Linked DNA regions of Homo sapiens: region 2 is linked to region 1. A link means that fine-mapping ties the variant in region 1 to the expression of a gene that starts in the linked region. Tissue or cell type: thyroid. Region 1 holds a variant in brackets; the other region holds the start of a gene. All regions are shown on one strand. Distances are between the middles of the regions.

The links. PIP is the estimated chance that this variant, and not a neighbour inherited with it, causes the effect.
Region 2: it holds the start of HEATR4, and the variant in region 1 is fine-mapped to the expression of HEATR4 in thyroid (GTEx, PIP 0.91).

What each region holds. Positions count from the first base shown.
Region 1 is chr14:73,503,553-73,511,670 of GRCh38, forward strand. It overlaps HEATR4 (HEAT repeat containing 4), which reads right to left. Exons shown (of 18, transcript NM_001220484.1): 8 at 5,760-5,921; 9 at 4,582-4,742; 10 at 2,915-3,019. It also overlaps a transcript of ACOT1 not described here. Among named protein-coding and RNA genes, the nearest start is that of RIOX1, 17 kb to the left of the region's middle. The variant T/C (reference allele first, on the strand shown) is at 4,275.
Region 2 is chr14:73,554,853-73,562,974 of GRCh38, forward strand. It overlaps HEATR4 (HEAT repeat containing 4), which reads right to left and starts at 4,095. Exons shown (of 18, transcript NM_001220484.1): 1 at 3,899-4,095. RefSeq lists an enhancer at 4,927-5,096.

The DNA of each region.
Region 1 (8,118 bases):
CTACTCCTACCTGGTACTTGATGTCTTTGTAGTCTTCCTTTAGGATTTACCTCAAAAGCATCTCCTTCCTATCTCTTTTATTAAAAATTTTAAAAAATAAAATAAAAACATCTCCTTAGTGAAGTCTTCTTTGCCCCTTGTAAGCACAGGAAATCCCCACAACACCTTATAGCTGCTTCTGTTCTAGCTATTTGTAACATTTACTAACGGAAGACTTATCCCTGCACCCCCAGGGGTAGCATAGTGCCTAGTGCGTCGGATGTGGTCAGAAACTGCATGCTTACTGAATGAGTGAAAAGACTCATAGACATACTGCCTTTCTTAGCTCCAGCAATCTGCCATGAAGTCCTCATCATCTTTACCTCAACCCCTGCTAGCTCTGCATGTCTTTTTACTTTCAGTTGTCAATTCTAAGTGACAAGTGCCAAGGAGGTGAAGGTACAAATGAATTGGAAGTTGTTAAAATGATATTGTTAAGATGCAGATTCTGATTGAGCTGGCTTAAGATGAGATTTTTGCATTTCTTTTTTTTTTTTTTTTTTGAGACGGAGTTTCACTCTTGTTGCCCAGGCTGGAGTGCAATGGCACGATCTCGGCTCACTGCAACCTCCGCCTCCTGGGTTCAAGTGACTCTCCTGCCTGAGCCTCCTGAGTAGCTGGGATTATGGGCATGTGCCACCAAGCCTGGCTAATTTTTTTTTTTTTTTTGAGACGGAGCCTCGCTCTGTTGCCCAGGCTGGGGCGCAGTGGTGCGATCTCAACTCACTGCAACCTCCACCTCCTGGGATCACGCCATTCTCCTGCCTCAGCCTCCCGAGGAGCTGGGACTACAGGTGCCTGCCACCACACCCGCCTAATTTTTTTTATTTTTAGTAGAGACAGGGTTTCACCGTGTTAGCCAGGATGGTCTCGATCTCCTGACCTCGTGATCCGCCCTCCTTGGCCTCCCAAAGTGCTGGGATTACAGGTGCGAGCCACTGTGCCCGGCCGATTTTTGCATTTCTAATAATGCTCCTAGGTGACGCCTGTGCTGCTGGTCCAGGACTTTAGCAGCAGGGTGCTATAGCACTTGAGACAGAACTAACCCAAGTCCAAAACCTTTTCAGGTGATTACTGTACTGAGTGGCCAGATTTTGTGCTTCCCATATCAAAATGTCAGGGTTACAGAGTGGAGGTTGTTCACTTATCATGGGAATGGCAATGTTCTGGGCTATTCTGGAGATATCCAAAGTTATAAGGAAAAGATGAAGTAGCACATAGGAAGAAGGGAAAGCTCCCATTTGGACAGCTGAAGATGATTGGGAAATAATGGCAAAAACGAAGTGTTGCCTGGAATTCCCTCTTTAGTTCTAGCTGAGCCCCACCATCTTCACCGACAGTTGGTTTGTTTTTTTTTTTAGATGGAGTCTCGCTCTGTCGCCCAGGCTGGAGTGCAGTGGCACGATCTTGGCTCACTGAAACCGCCGCCTCCCAGGTTTAAGCGATTCTCCTGCCTCAGCCTCCAAGTAGCTGGGATGACAGGTGTGTGCCACCATGCCCAGCTAATTAGAGATGGGGTTTTGCCATGATGACCAGGCTGGTTTCAACCTCCTGGTCTCAAGTGATCCACCCGCCTCAGCCTCCCAAGGTGCTGGGCTTACAGGCATGAGCCACCGTACCGGACCCCTTCACAGAACTTTAACCAATAAATTTAACCCACACTAATCTCTCTCTCTCTGAAAAGTTTTAAAAGGGTACCTTATATTTATTGCTTGTTCTTGAATCATTTGTGTATATTAGTCTTATTGTTCCTACCATAGTGTTAATTTTGTGAAAGTTGGGACAATGGTTTTTTTGTTTTGTTTTTTTTTGTTTTGTTTTTTGAGACAGAGTCTCGCACTGTCGCCCAGGCTGGAGTGCAGTGGTGCGATCTCGGCTCACTGCAACCTCTCCCTCCCAGGTTCAAGCAATTCTTGTGCCTCAGCCTTCCAAGTAGCTAGGATTACAGGTGCCAGCCACCACACCTGGCTAATTTTTGTATTTTAGTACAGATAGGATTTCACTATGTTGGCCAGGCTGGTCTGAAACTCCTGAGCTCTGATCCACCTGCCTTGGCCTCCCAAAGTGCTGGCATTACAGGTGTGAGCCACCGTGCCCGGCCGGGACTATGTTTTATATGTGTGTGCCGAACACTCTGAGAAGCAGCACAGACACTCATTTAGATGGGTTTTTGGGTAGTCTAAGTCAGTGCTTCTCGAATGATCTTTGATGAAGAACCAATTTTGGCGGGGGGGAAATATGTCATTGACTGATAAAGTCTGTTGATATTGAGGCAATATCAAATTACTATAAACGTTTCTTTTTTTTTTTTTTTTTTGAGATGGAGTCTCCCTCTGTCACCCAGGCTAGAGAGCAGTGGTGAGATCTTGGTTCACTGCAACCTCTGCCTCCTGGGTTCAAGCGATTCTCCTGCCTCAGCCTCCCAAGTAGCAGGGATTATAGGCGCGTGCCACCACACTCTGCTAATTTTTGTATTTTTAGTAGAGATGGAGTTTCACCATGTTGGTCAGGCTGGTCTCCAACTCCTGACCTCGTGATCCGCCTGCCTTGGCCTCCCCAAGTGCTGGGATTACAGATGTGAGCCACCGCACCCGGCCTACTATAAACGTTTCTAAACTCCTGTCAGTTTTTGTGCTATTTCATTGTGGATCAGTTACCAACAGTTTATGGACCACCAGTGCACTGAGAAGCATTGGCTTCCAGACAGACATATTAGCATTTGAAGATAATTCTGGGCTAGAAGTAAGAAGTAGTGATGTGGGAACAGAGATCTGTTTGGTAAGAATGGAATAATACATAGCAGCAAAAAGTAGAAGGCCTCTGTAGCTCAGCCTCTCTTAGGCTTTCTGTCCTGGAGGCAAAGAAAGAGGTTTACCAAGCAGACATTTCCACTGATCCGGGAGAAAGCCTGGCAGGCCACAATCCGGTTCTTCCATTGACAGCTGTTCAGCTCCACAGCAAGCATGGTGTGTATCAGGGTCTGAGGAAATGGAAGACTTGTATGGATATTCACAATCACTTTTAGAGATACTAGAACCTTGAAGTTACATTCTGAAATGGCATCCTGCATAATTAATGTCACCAGTGGGCTTACAAGAGATGGGGCATGTTTCCATCACAGCCAACTGACTCTGGGATCATAAATTGGGGAACAAAATACAAATTTAATAACTTAAACAGAAAACTGGGACCTTCCTTTCCTGACTTTAACTGTTTTTTTTTTTTTTTTTTTTTCTGAGAAGGTTGTCCCCCAGGCTGGAGTGCAGTGGCACAATCTCGGCTCACTGCAACCTCCGCCTCTCGGGTTCAAGTGATTCTGTTGCCTCAGCCTCCCAAGTAGCTGGGATTACAGGCGCCTGCCACCACGCCCGGTTAATTTTTGTATTTTTAGTAGAGGCGGGGTTTTACCATGTTGGTGCCAGGCTGGTCTTGAATTCCTGACCTCAGGTGATCTGCCTGCCTCGGCCTCCCAAAGTGCTGGGATTACAGGCGTGAGCCACCGTGCCCGGCCTTCTGTCTTTAACTGTTTTTACCCCTAAAATGATTTTTATATGCCTCAAGCTTATGACTTTCACATTTCTATTGAAAGTAACTAAACACAAATATAGGCCTCTGCAGTTTTCAATGGTAAACTTCTAGCAGAAGCAAATTCTACATGTCAGAACTCTTCTTGCATATGCAAATAGAGACCATTTGCAACCTAATTCTCACTTTTCTCTCAGCTAACTATTGTGACTTCCCTTTGTATACACCTCTACACCCAGGTTTACTCATGCTTATTCTACGTTTACTTATGCTTGAGATTGTCAACCCAACCGGCTGCATTTTATCTAATTAATTAATTGTGTAATTAATTTTTTGAGGCAGGGTCTTGCTCTGTCGCTCAGGCTGGAGTACAGTGGTGTGATCTCAGCTCGCTGCAGCCCCAACCTGCCAGGCTCAAGTGATCCTCCCACCTCAGCCTCTTGAGTAGCTAGGATTACAGGCACATACCACCATGCCTGACTAATTTTATTTCTTTTTTTGTAGAGACAGGGTCTCACTATATTGCCCAGGCTGGTCTTGAAATCCTGGACTCAAGGGATACTCCCACCTCAGCCTCCCAAAGTGCTGGGATTACAGGCGTGAGCGACCATGCCCAGCCCAGCTGCATTTTATTTTATTTGTTTGAGACAGAGTCTTGCTCTGTCACCTAGGCTGGAGTGTAGTGGCGTGATCTCAGCTCACTGCAACCT[T/C]CACCTCCCAGGCTGAAGTGATTTTCATGCCTCAGCCTCCCGAGTAGCTGGGACTACTCAGTGTGGTACCACTGCACCTGTCTAATTTTTTTATTTTTAGTAGAGATGAGGTTTCACCCATGTTGGCCAGTCTGGTCTCGAACTCCTGACCTCAAGTGATCCACCTGCCTCGGCCTCCCGAAGTGTTGGGATTACAGGCATAAGCCACTGCCCCGGCCCCAGCTGCATTTCAGATTGCTTACATTCACTGACCTCAAAGACCTAATTGCTCCCCAAAACTGTGTCTGACCCGGTAATGGACACATACTGTCTTCTCACTCAGATAGCTCAGGAGGATATAAGACTGTTCCTCAGTGTCCTCATTCTTCTTTGTAAACAGCTGGTGGAGGATCCTCTTAATCACAGGGTAAGTAGCAGTACCTTCCAGAGCCAAGCACTGAGCTGCAGCCCAGCTATCCACACTGTTACCTGCCACAGTTGGGTGAAAAAGAGTTCAGAATGGTGATGTGTTTTCCCCCTAGAGAACAGCCTTTGGATTGATACCCAAGGCTGCTACCCCACCTGATATCTCACTTCCTTGTGCCCCACTCAGTCTAGAAATACAATTTCTTATTTAAACCATATTGAGAAGAATCATATTGGCTGGGCACGGTGGCTAACACCTGTAGTCCTCACATTTTGGGAGGCCAAGGTGGGCGGATCACCTAAGGTCAGGAGTTCAAGACCAGCCTGGCCAACATGGTAAAACCCCATCTCTACTAAAAATACAAAAATCAGCCAGGCGTGGTGGCATGCGCCTGTAATCCCAGCTACTTGGGAAGCCGAGGCAGGAGAATTGCTTGAACCCAGGAGGCGGAGGTTGCAGTGTGAGCTGAGATCCCACCATTGCACTCCAGCCTGGGCAACGAGAGTGAAACTCTGTCTCAAAAAAAAAAAAAAAAAAAAAAAAAATTTAGTCCAGCTACCACTTGGTGGCAGTGTACCTGTTTTGTTAAAGTACCTAGAAAGAGCAAATTTTCTTTTTTTCCTTTTTTTTAGAGACAGGGTCTTGCTCTGTCACCCAGGTTGGAGTACAGTGGCACCATTGTGGCTTATTGCAGCTTCAACCCCCTGGGCTCAAGCTGACTCTGATAAGCATGTATATATAGGTCTGCCTCAGCCTCCTAGGTAGCTGGGTCTACAGGAGCACACCACCGCACCTGGCTAATTTTAAAATTTTTTATAGAGATGGGGTCTTGTTATGTTGCCCAGGCTGGTTTAGAACTCCTATGCTCAGGTGATCCTGTCGCCTTGGCCTCCCAAAGTGCTGGGATTACAGGTGTGAGCGACAGTGTCTGGTCCTAATTTTCAAATGGTCTAACATAAATCTAAACCCAATACAGCAGACATTGCAGAGCATCACAGTGGAGAGGAAAGGACTGGGAAAGCTGATAGTGAGATGTCTATCCCATATTTCCAGGTCAGAAGTAACAGGGAGTTACTCACCCTTCAGAAGGGCAGTCTGCATGATGTTCCGGGCAAGGGGATTATGTGACTGTATGGCATATTGGCATATTGCTGCTGCCATCCGCACATGGGCATTCTTGTCACAAAGAGCAGCCTCTAGGGCAGGCAGTAGAACCTCCGGCAAGTCCTGGATGGTCTTGTCTGTGATCAAAAGAGCCAGGTAAGAGAGTACTAGCCCCTTTGCTTTTCTCACACACAGCTTCCTTCCTACAGCCATGTGGTGGCCAACCTCAGTCCCAGCTGCAGTTGCTTAGTGCTATGTAATATAATTACAGTTTAGCTGAGCCCTTCAGATGGGCAGGATTTTCTGCTCAAGGTGTTAAAGCTCACCTGTGTGCTGGTATGCCAATTCCCAATCCTTTATCATCTGGCCTCTAAACAGCTATATTTAAGCCGAAGAAGAATGTTTCCAGCTAGGCTACAGTGAACTACACCATTAGTTTTAGTGATTAAAAGCAACCAATTTGCCCCATGAGCCCATATATATATATATATATATATATATATATATATATATATATATATATATATATATATTTATTTATTTTATATATTTTTTGAGACGGAGTCTTGTTCTGTCACCTGGGCTGGAGTGCAGTGGTGTGATCTCAGCTCACTGCAAGCTCCGCCTCCTGGGTTCACACCATTCTCCTGCCTCAGCCTCCCGAGTAGCTGGGACTACAGGCACCCAGCTAATTTTTAGTATTCTTAGTAGAGATGGGATTTCACCGTGTTAGCCAGGATGGTCTCGATCTCCTGACCTTGTGATCCACCTGCCTCAGCCTCCCAAAGTGCTGGGATTACAGACGTGTGCCACCGCCCCCAGCTGAGCCTTTATATTTGTAAGAACAATTATATTTAGGTAGTGCTTTATAATATAGTGTTTTTACATTATCTTGTTATCTTTCAACCTTGGTTGAATTAGGCAAGGTAGGTATCATTGTAGAGCTCACTAGGGAGTCTTTTTTGGTTCAACTAAACAGTAAGGTTCATAAGACTGTCATGGGCCATGCATGGCACCAGAAGAATATGGGACAGGAGCATAGTTTGTCAACAGGGCAGCAGCATCAGGCATCCCTGTTGGCTGGAGTTTTTTTGTTTTTGTTTTTGTTTTTTTTTTGAGATAGAGTTTTTGCTCTGTTGCCCAGGCTGGAGTACAATGGCACAATCTTGGCTCACTGCAACTTCTGCTTCCTGGGTTCAGGCGATTCTTCTGCCTCAGCCTTCCGAGTATCTGGGACTACAGGCACCTGTCACCACGCCTGGCTAATTTTTGTATTTTTGGTAGAGATGAGGTTTCACCATGTTGGCCAGGCTGGTCTTGAACCCTTGACTTCAGGTGATCCACCTGCCTTGGCCTTCCAAAGTGCTGGAATTACAAGTGTGAGCCACCACACCTGGCTTTGGCTGCAGTTCTTGAGGCTGTCTTGAGCATTCCACAGAGTCTTGGGGACAGCACAGGAGCATGTTGTTTATTCACTGGGTGAATTTATGCTTTACAGGAACTAATATCTCTTATAAAAACTCCATAGACACAATTCTAGGGTCCACAAAGGGCCTGCCTGTTATAAGTTACAGTATCCAGGGAGGCCCAAACTATGGTGTCCCTATCAAGTATTTATATTTCACTTATAGCTCTTCTCAGTCCCAATGTAATTTATCAAACAGGATTTATATCATAACCAATGTTGCCTATAAAGATAGTTCTTATCAGGTGTTTAGGGGAACAGGTGGGCATTTAACTGAAGTTCAAATTCTCAAGTAGGAAGGGGAAAGGTTTGTTATCCCTTTGTCTACCACTAGTCTCATTTTATAGATAGGTAATTTGAAGCTCAGAGAGGTTAGCTGACTGCCCAAGGAGTGGCACAGCTAAGCCCGTGAATCATATTTTAAGATTTTGTCAGGTGCGGTGGCTCATGCCTGTAATCCCAGCACTTTGGGAGGCTGAGGTGGGTGGATCACTTGAGGTCAGGAGTTCAAGACCAGCCTGGCCAACATGGTGAAACCCCATCTCTACTAAAAATACAAAAAAATGAGCTGGGCATGGTGGCACACGCCTGTATGTAGTCCCAGCTACTCGGGAGACTAGGGCAGGAGAATTGCTTGAACCTGGGAGGTGGAGGTTGCAGTGAGCAGAGATCGCGCCACTGCACTCCAGCCTGGGTGACAGAGCAAGACTCTGTCTCAAAAATAAATAAATAAATAAATAAATAAATAAATAAATAAATAAATAAAATAAAATAAAAAAGAATGGGCTCTTGGCTGGGCACAGTGGCTCACGCCTGTAATCCCAGCAGTTTGGGAGGTTAAGGTGGGAGGATTACTTGAGGCCAGGAGT
Region 2 (8,122 bases), 51 kb after region 1:
CTATACGTTTAGAATGGAGCAGTTTAATACTAGATCTCAGAAATTTGAAAAATAGCAAAGAAGACTGGATTTGGAAAGCATGGTCTACAATTGCTTGTCAAATTCTGAAGCTATGAAGAATAAATGTTTCAACTTTGGATTATGAAACCCCATTTATGATTTTTTAAATAAACTTGAAATAAAAATGATTAAACTAAAAAAAAAGAATGTAGAGGGAGAGATCAATGTAAAAATTTATTTAAAGAAATAGTAACAGAGAACTTTCTAAAACTAGAGAAAGATATGAATATACAGGTATAAGAAGGTCATAAAACACCAAGCCAACTCAGCCTCAATAAGACTACCTCAAGGCATATAATAATCAAACTCTCAAAGGTCAAGGCTAAAAAAGGATCCTAAAAGCAGCAAGAGAAAAGAAGGACATATTAATAACATCATAAAGGAGCTCCAATATGGCTGGTAGCAGACTTCTCAGCAGAAACTTTACAAGCAGAGAGTGGGGTGACAAAGTGCTGAAGCAAAAAAACTTCCAATCTAGAATATTATATTCAGCAAAAACAGCCTTCAAACATGAAAGAGAAATAAGGATATTCTTAGTTAAAAAAAAAAAAGTGAGAGATTTTGACATCAGACCTGTCTTATAAGATTCTTGTTAAGAGGAGTTCCTCACTGGTTGAGTATGAATGGTCAAATGAAAAGAACATTAATATTCTCCTGCCTTGCATATTCTTCTAAAACATTTTACATTCCTAACACATCAGTGTGTCCACATCTTGCTTCTAAGGCAGGGGGCAATTTGATCCTAAACAGTTGAAAAATGGGATGAGGACTCATTTCATCCCCAGATGACTACCTATAAGGAGTGATTGGCTAGGTGGGTGGCTCACGCCTGTAATCCCAGCACTTTGGGAGGCTGAGGCGGGTGGATCACCCAAGGTCAGGAGTTCGAGACCAGCCAGCCTGATCAACATGGAGAAACCCCATCTCTACTAAAAATACAAAATTAGCCAGGCATGGTGGCACACACCTGTAATCCCAGCTACTTGGGAGGCTGAGGCAGGAGAGTTGCTTGAACCTGACAAGCAGAGGTTGCAGCGAGCCGAGATCGTGCCACCGCACTCCAGCCTGGATAACAAGAGCAAAACTCTATCTCAAAAAAAAAGGAGTGATTTAGGGTGTCCGCAGATAAATGCCCTTTAGCCTTTGACATAAAGAATCTTTAGTTACAATGCAAACATCCCAGAAAGAATACCATATTACCATTATCAATTATTAGAAATTCTTAAGGAGGCTGGGTGCGGTGGCTCACGCCTGTAATCCCAACACTTTGGGAGGCTGAGGCAGGCAGATCACCAGAGGTCAGCAGTTCAAGAGCAGCATGGCCAACATGGCGAAACCCCATCTCTACTAAAAATACAAAAAATTAGCCAGGCATGGTGGCAGGCACCCGTAATCCCAGCTACTCAGGAGGCTGAGGCAGGAGAATCGCTTGAACCCAGGAGGCGGAGGTTGCAGTGAGCCAAGATCACACCAGTGCACTCCAGGCTGGGTGACAAGAGTGAAACTTCTTCTCAAAAAAAAAAAACAAAAAAAACTTAAGGAATAGTTATTATCATCCGATATGATGGCTTATTAAGAAGGAAGGGAACACATGATAGGTCTGTTTTGAAAAGGAATGGGGACAGAACAAAATGTTACACAAGGTCTGATCAAAAGAGGCTTGTTCTGGCTTGTCTTTGTCTGTCTTGGAGTCACGGGACAGGTGTAAGGCCAAATTGTGCACTTCCCAGTCATGTTACCTTGGGCAAATAATTTGAAATCTGTAGTTTCCCAATCTGAAAATTGAGTCTGATACCTGTTCTAATTTAGTGTTGATTGATATGAACCTCAAAATTAGAAACGTATGAAAGTTCTTTGCAAACTAAAATATATGTGTGAGGAATTGTTATTATTAGTTTAGAGGATGGACTGTTGTCCTTAGAAGGCAAGTCTCTGGGTCCTACAGTTAGATGCACTGGGCGCTTCGGGAAGAATTTAGGGCTATGGGGTACTCAGCAATTAAAAGAGAGGGTGCTTAGAGAAGAAAGAAAGGACTTATTAATGGAGTTTGGAGGCTCCTTATTATCGAAACTTACACATTACGTGACCAGCATTATGAGGCAGCACCCCACTCCCAACAAATAGCCCTCTAGAACCAAAAGCAGAGTGGCAGGTCCGGGGTCCTTTTGTACATAGACAGCATAAAAAATTGACTAAGTCAATCCTGGCATAACTGCAGACCAGGCCCTGGAATGAGCAACCCACCAGCATTATCTGCATTTCTAGGAACTTGGGCTAGAAGGGGAGGAATGGGGTTGGAAGGGTTAGGCCACATGCCTCTAGTTAAAACCTGATGAACTTCCTAGATCCCCAGCTGGAAAACGTAGGAGTTGGACTAAATTCCTCTCCTGCCTCTAATATTTTATGAATACAGAACTCAACTCAAACTGGGTAGTATCTCAGAGATTCCAAATTTAGTTCCACTTTTCTGTTTGCTTATCAGTCGCTTACCCTCACCCTCTGGTCTGATACCTTTATCCTGTACAAGTGGTCAAAGTAGGTTGAGTAACATGTGCTAAAAGGAGTAATATCTTGCATTCTCCCTTGTTATTAAAATAGAGGAAACTGCCTTGAAAGAAAAGACTAAAAAGCAATAAGCCTTAGTATCAGTATCTTCTGAAAGCTTTAAAAAAATAATACTCTCATCTCTACCAACAGATTTGGATTCTGAAGTTCTGAGGTGGAGTCCAAGAGTGTGCAGTCAGCTTCTGGGGTGGTGTTTGTTAGATACAGTTTTTTGTTTATTTATTTATGTTTGAGACAGGGCCTCACTCTGTCACCCAAGCTGGAGTGCGGTGGCACAGTCATGGCTCACTGCAGCCTTGCCTCCCAGGCTCAAGCAATCCTCCTGCCTCAGCGTCCCCAGTAGCTGGGACCACAGGTGTGCACCACCATGCCTGGCTAATGTTTTAAAACTTTTTTTTGTAGAGACAGGGTCTTACTATGTTGTCCAGGCTGGTTTCAAACTCCTGGAATCAAGTGATCTTCCTGCCTTGGCCTCCAGAAATGCTGGGACTATGCCTGGAATAGATATGGGTAAAGAACCTTTTACATCAGACTCTTGTGTCCTACTCCCAGAATGCTGATTCAGTAGCCTGCAAGTGAGGCCTAGAAATCTGCATTTTCACAAGCTCTCAGGTTTAATACACAATACATTTAAAGAAAGCACAGCCCAAAGGGTGTCAGTGGGGTGTATGAAGGAAGCCTGGTTAGTGGGGAGAGTGGGATTAGGGAACAGCTGCTTAACCTGGCTTGTTTCAAGTCCCCCTTTCTCCCTTTTTGCCCTCAAAAAGTTCCCCTCATTTTTTCCCCTCTACTTTCTAATTTTTTACCATGCACTCACACAGCTATACAGCTATCTCCAGAGATTACTCTGGAAACTCTGCTATAAAGATGACCTGGTCTAATGCCTTGATTTGTTTTTTTTTTTTTGAGACAGGGTCTCACTCTCCTGGAGTACAGTGGCGTGATCATGACTCACTGCAGCCTTGACCTCCTGGGCTCAAGCAATCCTCCCACATAGCTGGGAGCATAGGCACATAGCACACCACTCTCGGTTAAATTTTTTTTTTTTTTTTTTTTTTTGTAGAGATAGAGTCTCACTATGTTGCTCAGGCTGGTCTTGAACTCCTGGACTCAAACAGTCCTCCCACCTTGGCCTCCCAAAATGCTGGGAATACAGGCATGAGCCACTGCACCAGGCCTAATGTCCTGATTTTATAAATCCCAAAACTGGGGCCCAGAGAGAAGAGAAATCATTAAGATCACCATACTGCTTGGTATCTAAAGTAGTACTGACCCTTTTGACACCTAATCCAAAGTTTTTTCAGCTACCTCAGGTTGCCCCTCATCTTCCAGCTGACACCATCCAGCACCTTTCAGATACTGGCAAAGGAGCAGTGTTTCAAAATTACTTTCCAAATGGCCTCCTAAAAGGCAGTCCTCAGAGAGAAGCAAGGTTCTGCATCTTAAGCCTTCCTTGGTTTCTTAGGTTCCAAAGCTGTTTCTATCAGTCTCCAAGCAACCAACTCTTTAGAATTCCATGAGTCTACTCAGAGAACTTGTGGGTTCAGTCGGGGGTATATCTTCAACCATTTATTAAATTTCCTTCTTTGTAAACTGAGCTTTGAGAAATTGCATCTTATTTATTGATTATTTATTGAATGGTAGTTTCATGGAGTTTTTGGTCTTTTTTCTTTTTTGAGACAGTCTCACTCAGTTGCCTAGGCTGGAGTGCAGTGGTGCGATCTCGGCTCACTGCAACCTGTGCCTCCCAGGTTCAAGCAATTCTCCTGTCTCAGCCTCCCATTACAGGCCACACCACCATGCCCCACTAATTGTACTTTTAGTAGAGATGGGGTTTCACCATGTTGGACAGGCTGTTCTCAAACTCCTGACCTCAAGTGATGTGTCCGCCTTGGCCTCCCAAAGTGCTGGGATTTGCAACTGTGAGCCACCACACCTAGCCTCTTGGTCATTCTTTGAAAAATAAACCTCAGCCAGGCGCGATGGCTCACGCCTGCAATTTCAGCGCTTTGGGAGGCTGAGGTGGCGGATCACCTGAGGTCAGGAGTTAGAGACCAGCCTGACCAACATGGTGAAACCCCATCTCTACTAAAAATAGAAAATTTAAAAAGAAAATCACCTGGGCCTGGTGGCGCATGCCTGTAATCCCAGCTACTCGGGAGGCTGAGGCAGGAGAATCGCTTGGACCCAGGAAGCAGAGGTTGCAGTGAGCCAAGATCAGGCCATTGCACTCCAGCCTGGGCAGCAAGAGTGAAGTGCAGTCTCAAAAGATAAAAATAAAAAAACCCTCTAGATATATGCAGCTCCATATTCTCCCACCACAAGGGTTTATAAATCCTGAGAAAGAGGCAAAGCAGGGAACACATGACCACATAGTTCTGGCAGGCGTCAGATTACCAGGCTGATAAAACAGATGGTAAAGTAGAAGCTGTCCGTCGACTTTTCCATTCCCCTTTCAGCTCCTCCACTGCTACTTAATCTCCTTTGCCCACACAGTTCAATCCCATTTTCCCTGATCTCTAAATCCTGGCTAGATTATTAGCCATTAACACTAGCTTTTACAAGGAGACTCTTCAATCTTGTATTTCTAATAGTATAATTTCACACGTACAGAAATTCTTTAAGTCATAGAAGTCTTACAGATACAGAAATTCTGATCTTCAAGAGTCCCTTTGTGAAACAAACTAATTTATCCTGACAGCAGGAAAGATTTCTGGGCCTAAGGCTCTGTCTCGTTGACCCAGGTCATGCTATTCAGGTGGTCCATCTCTTGGTTCCAAGCAAGACTGCTGCTGCTGACCAACCTGAATATGGACTTTAGCACTTGAGCTCAAGCTGCACTCAGATGGTTAGACCCCCATAAAAAGCAGAGGGTACGTTTTCTGTTATGAAAAGTAAAGACTGAGCCAGGCGCTGTGGCTCACGCCCATAATCCCAGCACTTTGGGAGGCAAGTTGGGCGGATCACGAGGTCAGGAGATTTAAACCATCCTGGGTAACACGGTGAAACCCCATCTCTACTAAAAATACAAAAAAATTAGCCAGGCGTGGTGGCAGGCGCCTGTAGTCCCAGCTACTTGGAGGCTGAGGCAGGAGAATGGCATGAACCCGGGAGGCGGAGCTTGCAGTGAGCCGAGATTGGGCCACTGCACTCCAGCCTGGGCGACAGAGCAAGACTCCATCTCAAAAAAAAAAAAAAAGAAAATTAAATACTAAAAAAATTAAACATTATAACCCTGCTAAGGCAGGAGGATCATTTGAGCCCAGGAGTTTGAGGCTGCAGTGAGCTATGATGGCACTACTGCACCCCAGCCTCAGTGACAGAGGGAGACCCTGTTTCTAATAAATCAAAACCCTGTTGAAGGTTCCTCAAAAAATTAAATATAGAATTACTATGTGATCCAGCAATTCTACTTCTGGGTACATATCCAAAAGAATTGAAAGCAGGGACTTTAACAGATATTTGTATACCCATGTTCATAGCAGCATACTCACAATAGCCAAACGGTGGAAAGAACCCAAATGTCCATCAGTGAATGAATGGATAAACAAAATGTGGAAGATACATACAACAGAATGTTATTCAGCCTTAAAAAGGAATGAAATGGGCTGGGCGTGGTGGCTCAGGCCTGTAATCCCAGCACTTTGGGAGGCCGAGGAGGGTGGATCACCTGAGGTCAAAAGTTCAAGACCAGCCTGGTCAACATGGTGAAACTCCATCTCTACTAAAAATACAAAAATTAGCCAGGCGTAGTGGCAGGCGCCTGTAATCCCAGCTACTCAGGAGACCGAGGCAGGAGAATCTCTTGAACCCAGGAGGCAGAGGTTGCAGTGAGCCAAGATCTCGCCATTGTGGTCCAGCCCGGGCGACAGAGCGAGAGTTTATCTCAAAAAAAAAGAAAGAAAAAAAAAGAAAAAGGAATGAAATGGGCCAGGTGCAGTGGCTCACGCCTATAATCCCAGCACTTTGGGAGCCTGAGGCGGACAGATTACTCAAGGTCAGGAGTTCGAGACCAGCTTGGCCAACACAGTAAACCCCGTCTCTACTAAAAATACAAAAATTAGCTGGGCATGGTGGCACACACCTGTAGTCCCAGCTACTGGGGAGGCTGAGGCAGGAAATCACTTGAACCCAGGAGGTTGCAGTGAGCCAAGCAAGATTGCACCACTCCACCCCAGCCGGGCAACAAGAGTGAAACTCTGTCTCAAAAAAAATGAATGAAATGGCTGTGTGAGGTGGCTCATGCCTATGATCCCAGCACTTTGGGAGGCCGAGGTAGGAAGATTGCTTGAATGTAGAAGTTCAAGACCAGACTGGGCAACAAAGTGAGACCCCCATCTCTACAAAAAACTTAAAAAGTATCCAGGTGAGGTGGCACGTGCTTGTCGTCCCAGCTACTGGGGAGACTGAGATGGGAGGATTGCTTGCACCTGGGTGTTGAGACTGCAGTGAACTGTGATCTTGCCACTGCACTCCAGAGCCTGGGTGACAGAGCAAAATTCCTGGGGAGAGTGAAGTTATGATATGCTGTAAATATATGGATGAGCCTTGAAGACAATATGCTAAGCAAAATAAGCCAGAGATGAAGGGCCAAATACTGTATAATTACACTTTATGAGGTACCTAAAGTAGTCAAATTCAGAGACAGGAAGTGGAATAGTGGTTGCCAGGGGCTGGTGGCAGTGGGGAATAAGGAGTTATTGTTTAATGTTGTGGGAAGTCAAGGACCCCGAATGGAGGGACCGGCTGGAGCCGCGGCAGAGGAACATAAATTGTGAAGATTTCATCTTAATATGGACATTTATCAGTTCCCAAATAATACTTTTATAATTTCTTATGCCTGTCTTTAATATCTTAATCCTGTTATGTTCGTAAGCTGAGGATGTACATAACCTCAGGACCACTGTGATAATTGTGTTAACTGTACAAATTGATTGTAAAACATGTGTTTGAACAATACGAAATCAGTGCACCTTGAAAAAGAACAGAATAACAGCGATTTTTATGGAACAAGGGAAGACAACCATAAGGTCTGACAGCCTGCGGAGTCGGGCCAAAAGAGCCATATTTTTCTTCTTGCAGAGAGCCTACAAACGGACGTGCAAGTAGGAGAGATATCACTAAATTATTTTCCTAGTAAGGAATATTAATATTAATACCCTGGGAAAGGAATGCATTCCTGGCGGGAGGTCTATAAACGGCCGCTCTGGGAATGTCTGTCTTGTGCCGTTGAGATAAGGACTGAGATACGCCCTGGTCTCCTGCAGAACCCTCAGGCTTACTAGGGTTGGGAAAACTCCACCCTGGTAAATTTGTGGTCAGACTGGTTCTCTGCTCTCCAACCCCGTTTTCTGTTGTTTAAGATGTTTATCAAGAAAATACATGCACCGCTGAACACAACCCTTATCAGTGGTTCTGCTTTTGCCCTTTGCCTTGTGATCTTTGTTGGACCTTTGTCAGTGGTTCTGCTTTTGCCCTTTGTCCTATTCCCTCAGAA